Linked DNA regions of Homo sapiens. The protein of the gene in region 2 interacts with the protein of the main gene of each other region in a pairwise test. Each region holds a gene or a part of one and is shown on either strand. Other genes may lie near its edges.

What was found.
Region 1: the proteins of HPRT1 (region 2) and EEF2KMT interact in binary tests that used the Homo sapiens proteins (3 or more experiments, as listed by UniProt).

What each region holds. Positions count from the first base shown.
Region 1 is NC_000016.10:5,083,784-5,087,795, forward strand, and holds the end of EEF2KMT (protein-lysine N-methyltransferase EEF2KMT), read right to left. Parts: intron 3,597-4,012; exon of another isoform or gene 1,950-3,596; coding exon 1,849-1,949; 3' UTR 1,099-1,848; coding exon of another isoform or gene 967-1,098; 3' UTR 501-966; downstream 1-500. Other genes in the region: ALG1 (chitobiosyldiphosphodolichol beta-mannosyltransferase), read left to right, coding at 967-1,098. UniProt on the Homo sapiens protein: Catalyzes the trimethylation of eukaryotic elongation factor 2 (EEF2) on 'Lys-525'.
Region 2 is NC_000023.11:134,498,068-134,501,267, reverse strand, and holds the end of HPRT1 (hypoxanthine-guanine phosphoribosyltransferase), read right to left. Parts: intron 2,879-3,200; coding exon 2,832-2,878; intron 2,661-2,831; coding exon 2,584-2,660; intron 1,239-2,583; coding exon 1,191-1,238; 3' UTR 600-1,190; downstream 1-599. UniProt on the Homo sapiens protein: Converts guanine to guanosine monophosphate, and hypoxanthine to inosine monophosphate. Transfers the 5-phosphoribosyl group from 5-phosphoribosylpyrophosphate onto the purine.

The DNA.
Region 1 (4,012 bases), on a different chromosome or scaffold from region 2:
GTGGGGAGGGTTCTGGAGACTGGCACCGAGCCAGGCTCCCTGATCCCTGCTTCCCACAGCCAGGGTGGGACCATGTGGGGTCTGGCGGAAAAGCTAGGGAGGGAGCAGAGGTCACAGAGGCTGGCCCACTCTGCTGTCCCGTTTCGGTACAGTAGGCTCGGGAAAGTTAAGACACACCCCCACCTGCCCTCTGGATTTATGGAGCTGACACTCCACAAATGATGCTGGAGCTGGGTGGGCCGGGCTGCGGTTGAGGAAGTGATCAGGATCACGTAGGTGGGCGGGCAAAGGGAGCTTCTGGGACCAGCCTTGAAAGATGGGTGGAATTCTGCAAAGGTTACTTGTTTCTTATTGCAAAAAGTAATACATCATTCTTGCCAACAGAATGATTGGCAGGATTTTCAGTAAAGGTCCAGGTCGGAAGTCGTTTAGACTGGGTTCCCCAGTCTCTGTCAGAACCATGGTACTCTGTTGGGGTGTGAAAGTAGCCACAGATCATCTGTAGATTAAGGGGTGTGGCTTTGTTCCAATAAAACTTTATTTACAAACACAGGCTGTGGGCTGGATTTGGCCTGCAGGCTGTAGTTTGTGATCCTTGATTCAGACAGTTTAGCAAGGCTGCAAAGAACACCGACACCCCCTTGTTACCCACAGATGGGTGAGACTGCGTTGGCCAGAGGCCGAGAGGAGGGTGCTCACAGGGGAATGGGCAGCACGTAGAGGCCGGGAGGTGCTCCAGGGCACCAAGTGTGGGAAAGTGGGACATGCGGGGAAGTTTCCAGAAACTGTGATGTCAAGTTGGAGGCGGAGTGCTGCTGGGGTGTGAAGGGTCTCGAGTCCAAGTGAGGGAGTTAGGGACTTGGGAGGGGTTGTTGTTGGGTCGGGGACCTGGGGTCAGCCAGGTGGTGACCTGGGATGGGGTGGGGACAGGCAATGAGGTAAGCTCTGCTCTTTATTTTTTTGCAGATGCTTTTCTCAAACTTTCCTGATCCTGCGGGCAAGCTAAACCAGTTCCGGAAGAACCTGCGGGAGTCGCAGCAGCTCCGATGGGATGAGAGCTGGGTGCAGACTGTGCTCCCTTTGGTTATGGACACATAACTCCTGGGCCAGAGGCTAAAACCCCAGGACCCCTGCTGTCCTTCCCGCAGCTTCTTCTTGGAGTCTCAGGGCAAACCCTTTCGAGCAGCACCTCCCAGTGGCCAGAAGCTGAAATGACAGCAGTGGTACTGCCTGGTAAAAGAATTGGTTCTGTGACCCGGGAAGCTTTGGTTGGCCTTGATTTCTTCTCTGGAGGCTTGGAAACGCTTCCTCTCTTCTTCTGTTCTTCACGCCCCATGCCCCTGCTAGCGTATTACTGTTCTGTGACTTCCCTGTGACCTCTGCAGAACTCCTCATCCTGCGTTTGGTCTCCAGGTGTCCCCTTTCTGCCGTGTTCCTAACATTTTGATTCCTGTCTTGAAAAAAGCACCTGCTGCACCGTAAGCCCAGGGATGTGGCAGCTGCAGTGGGCTTGGCTTTGTGAGGAACTGAGTGTGTCCACGTTGGGGGAACATCATACTTGATACACACGTTTTTATTTGCACAAAGAAAATGCTATTTTTGGAGCCAGAATTTTCATGTCTGATTTATGGTGATTTTCTTAAGAACCAGAACTGCTGGCAGAAAGGGGGCACCCACACGCTTAGATAGCCGATGTCTTATTAGAGGGCAGTTTGTGGTTCCTGATTTGGAAATTAACATTCTCCAAACATTCCAGTCCAATGAAAGTTTTATCCGCTTTCCCATATAAAAATTCTTCCCATGAGAGTGACTTGATTCTCACAATCCCGTTGGAGTCGTGTGTGAGTCCTACAGGGTGAGATTCAGCATTGCCATCTCCAAGTGCTCTTCGTAGGGAAACAGTTTCTGCTCATGACGAGGTTCCACTTCCCATCTGATCCCGGCCCGGCCTGGAAACAGAGCACATGTGTTTGAGGATGGCGGTGTTTGGGGACAGGACATGAGGGTATTGTGTGGGGCTGCTAGGACAGGCCTGGCGGGGTAGGGGGGTGTCCAAGTCAGTTTACTTGGTTCACAGGTTCCCAGGCCCACCCAGGTGCCTAGAATTGGCCTCCAGGATGGGACCAGAAAGCTGGTTTTGCATAGAAATGGCTAGCAGCAGGCACCGTGCCGCTGTCCACTCTCTGCCTGTGTCTGCCCCAGCACTTGGCACAGCGGGACAGAAGCAGAGATCTGAATAGTCAACCCACTCTTCACAAAGCTTAGAAAGCGGCCGGGCACAGTGGCTCATGCCTGTAATCCCAACACTTTGGGAGGCCAAGGCGGGCGGATCACTTGAGGTCAGGAGTTCGAGACCAGCCTGGCCAACATGGTGAAATCCCATCTCTACAAAAATACAGAAATTAGCCAGGCATGATGGCGAGTGCCTGTAATCCCAGCTACTTGGGAGGCTGAGGTGGGAGAATTGCTTGAACCCAGGAGGTGGAGGTTGCAGTGAGCTGAGATTGTGCCACTGCACTCCAGCCTGAGTGACAGGGTGAGACTAAGTCTCAAAAAAAAAAAAAAAAAACCACACGCACCACACACACACCCACACACACACACAGCTTAGAAGGGGCTGCTGTTCTCATAAGCACAGATGTCTGAAGAGCCGTTAGCCAGAATGATTCTTTTTTTTTGTTTTGAGATATGATCTTGTTCTGTCACCCAGGCTGGAGTGCAGTGGCACAGTCATTGCTCACTACAGCCTCGACTCCTGGGCTCTAGCAATCCTCCCACTTCCTGAGTAGCTGGGATGACAGGTGCGTGCCACCATGCCAGTAATTTTTTTATTTTGTAGAGATGGGGTCCTGAACGCATGGCCTCAAGTGATGCTCCTGCCTCAGCCTCTTTTATTATTTGTTTTTAGACGAAGTTTTACTCTGTTCCCCAGGCTGGAGTGCAGTGGCACAATCTCAGCTCACTGCAACGCCTCCCAGGTTCAAGTGATTCTCCTGCCTCAGTCTCCCGAGTAGCTTTGACTATAGGCGTGCACCACCACGCCTGGCTAATTTTTGTGTTTTTAGTAGAGATGGGGTTTCACCATGTGGGCCAGGCTGGTCTTGAACTCGACCTCCCGTGATCTGCTCACCTCAGCCTCCCAAAGCCTCAGCCTCTTACAGTGTTGGGATTACAGGCGTGAGACACTGTGACCCGGGACGATTTTCAATCACAGTTTTTTGTTACGAGTGGAAAATGCGTATTTATAAGAATGAAGTAGTACAGACATGAATGTGTAGAAATCTCTATAATCCTGCCATCCAAGGATGGCACCTGTTAATGTGTATATCAGGGATGTCCAATCTTTTGGCCTCCCTGTGCCACACTGGAAGAAGAAGAATCGCCTTGGGCCACGCATAAAATACACTAACACTAGCAATACCTGATGAGCTAAAAGAAAAAAAATCACAAAAAAACCTCGTACTGTTTGAAGAAAGTTTACAGATTTGCGTTGGGCCGCAAGTTGGACAAGACTGCTATATGTATATTCTAGGTTTTCCCCTATAGGTATACTTATGTGAAAATGATTATTGTGATAAATTTTGTTTTGAGATGAAGTCTCGCTATGTTGCTCAAGGTGGCCACAAACTCCTGGGCTTAAGCCATCCTCCCGCGTCAGCCTCCTGAGGAGTTGGGAATATAGGTACTCATAACCATGTGTGGGTGATTATTATTAGTTTTTAAACAAAAATGGGGTTGGGCGCAGTAGCTCACGCCCGTATTCCTAACACTTTGGGAGGCTGAGGCGGCAGATCACTTGAGGTCAGGAGTTCAAGACCAGCCTGGCCAACATGGCGAAACCTCAACTCTACAAACAATACAAAAAATAGCCAGGTGTGGTAGCACGTGCCTGTAGTCCCAGCTACTCAGGAGGCTGAGATGGGAGGATAGCTTGAACCTGGGAGGTGGGAGGTTGCAGTGGGCCGAGATGGCACCACTGCACTCCAGCCTGGGCAATACAAAGCCAGACTCT
Region 2 (3,200 bases):
CCTGGGCTCCCAAAAGTGCTGGGACTACAGGTACGAGCCACTGTGCCCGGCCTACAGCAAACTTTTTAAGGAACACGTGTAAGCTAGATGGCTCCTAAGTTTGATAGTTCATACCTCACGTGGAGCAGATAAGCAATTAAGAGTTTTGGCTTAAAACTTTTCTCCTATTCCCAGAAAACAAAAGGTGTTGTTGTCATTGTTCTTAGTCAATAAAGCACTATCTACACAAAGAAGGTAATAGGACATATCTGAGAACAATCTGTTGAGATGTAGCTGAGATTACAATCTGAAAAACTGAACAGAATTCCAAAAGAAAGCCGTGTTATTTTAGCATAGTAAAATGTAATATAAAGTGTACCATGTGTCTGAAATTTAATGTCTCTGAAGTAGCTAGGAATTTTTGTAGCTCCGCCAACCCATTCTACCACATAATCATTGAGATTACAATTAAACTAGCTACTAAAACTTAACAAACAAGGAAAATGGAACCAACAGAAAACTAAACTAGGTTAATTTGTAGAGAAATGATAACTATGCATAGGTTTTTTTAAAGAGACAGGACTTATTTTAAGGATTTTTAAATTGAATTCATAAAGCAGTTAAATTTTTGGGAATTTATTGATTTGCATTTAAAAGGGAACTGCTGACAAAGATTCACTGGTAATAATTTGAACAAGTTGGAAAATACAGTCAACATTACTGAAACACTACTAAAATAATTCCAGGACAGAACAAAACTTCTTAGATGCTGTCTTTGATGTGAAAATTGACTGCTTCTTACTTTTCTAACACACGGTGGTATAATTAACAATATTCAATCACTTCTATTCTTTCCTGCATATATAAAAATTAAAATACCAATTAAAAAACTAATATATCTTCTCTTTATTTCTTACAGATATGAGTTCAATGTTTCACTCAATAGTGCTGTGGTTTAAGAGAATTTTTTCATTTACAAGTTAAACAACAATCCGCCCAAAGGGAACTGATAGTCTATAGGCTCATAGTGCAAATAAACAGTTTAGGAATGCAGCAACTGACATTTCTAAAGTACAAAACAGATAAAATTCTTAGAAGATACATGCAAAAAGCTCTACTAAGCAGATGGCCACAGAACTAGAACATTGATAATTTTACTGGCGATGTCAATAGGACTCCAGATGTTTCCAAACTCAACTTGAACTCTCATCTTAGGCTTTGTATTTTGCTTTTCCAGTTTCACTAATGACACAAACATGCTATAAAAAAAAATCCAGAAATTCACATTTAAAAAGTATATTCTGAAATGAAAGGCAAGAATAGCATTTTACATATAAGAACACTATTAGTTGTCAGGGTTCTTACTAAACAGAGATAGTACTACTGTATTTTAGATCAGTAACTTTTGGGGAGTGTATCTTTTGAAAACAAAGCAGTAGTCTATCACATTAGTTTAATTTGTTTCTTGTTTTTGTTTTTTTTTTTGAGACGGAGTCTTGCTCTGTCACCCAGACTGGAGTGCAGTGGCACGATCTCTGCTCACTGCAAGCTCTGCCTCCCGGGTTCACGCCATTCTCCTGCCTCAGCCTCCCGAGTAGCTGAGACTATAGGCGCCCGCCACCACCCCAGCTAATTTTTTCTATTTTTTAGTAGAGACGGGGTTTCACCGTGTTAGCCAGGATGGTCTCGATCTCCTGACCTTGTGATCCGCCCGCCTCAGCCTCCCAAAGTGCTGGGATTACAGGCGTGAGCCACCGCGCCCAGTCTGTTTCTTGTCTTAATACGTAGTTTTTTGTTTTTTGTTTTGTTTTGAGACAGAGTCTTGCTCTGTCACCCAGGCTGGAGTGCAGTGGCGTGATGTTGGCTCACTGTAGCCTCTGCCTCCCGGGTTCCAGTGATTCTCCTGCCTCAGCCTCCCAGGTAGCTGGGTTACAGGCACACACCACTACGCCTGGCTAATTTTTGTATTTTTAGTAAAGGTGGGGTTTCATCATGTTTGCCAGGCTGGTCTCGAACTCCTGACCTCAAGTGATCTGTCCGGCTTGGCCTCCCAAAGTGCTAGGATTACAGGTGTGAGCCACCGCAACCAGCCTCAATATGTAGTTTTGAAAGACAAATCAAGGAGATAATTTCAAGCATATCAAAGTGGGAGGCCAGTGTACGTGGCAAAAAAAGATGGAGTAAAAAACCTGCTTTAGGTAGTGTACTGTTGCAGTCTTCCTAAATCTTCCTCAACCATGTTCATAAACACATCCATGGGACTTCTGCCTCCAGAGTAAGAGGCAGGTATTCAAAGGACAGTGAATTAAAAGACTAAACTCGATCATTTATTTCTTACTTATGACCACATTTATCATCTGAAATAATAATGCAACAATTATTGTATATTAAAGCTGTTCAACTATTTCAGCCAACAAGAAGTGTCACCCTAGCCTGGCCAGGTTCCAGTTCTAAGGACGTCTGTACTAGACTACAGCTTTATGTGACTAATGGGAACCATCAGTCTGTTCAAATTATGAGGTGCTGGAAGGAGAAAACAATTCTCTTTCCTAAATTTTTATGCGTGTTTTGAAAAATGAGTGAGAAAAAGAAGCAATTACTTACATTCAAATCCCTGAAGTATTCATTATAGTCAAGGGCATATCCTACAACAAACTTGTCTGGAATTTCAAATCCAACAACTAAAAAGAATCATAATTCATCATTTAGATAAAGAAAACATCACTTTTAAATCTAATACTGGCAAATGTGCCTCTCTACAAATATTCTCTAAGCAATTATAAGCCATTTCACATAAAACTCTTTTAGGTTAAAGATGGTTAAATGATTGACAAAAAAAGTAATTCACTTACAGTCTGGCTTATATCCAACACTTCGTGGGGTCCTTTTCACCAGCAAGCTGTTAATTACAAAATGTGACATATAACATACAGAGAGACTACAGGGCATTACAAAAGAGAAGACTGACGTTTCTAAACACTGTTTCATTTCATCCGTGCTGAGTGTACCATGGTCACTTTTAACACACCCAAGGAAAGACTATGAAATGGAGAGCTAAATTATGGGGATTACTAGGAAGGGGCAGCAATGAGTTGACACTACAGACAAGGCACTTGGTTGATCACCTGGAACCTGAAGGACAGTTCTGAGACCTGCACCCTGACTACCCATGTGTCCATTGAAGGGGAGCTAATAAGGAGGATTAATGGGTACAGAGTGTC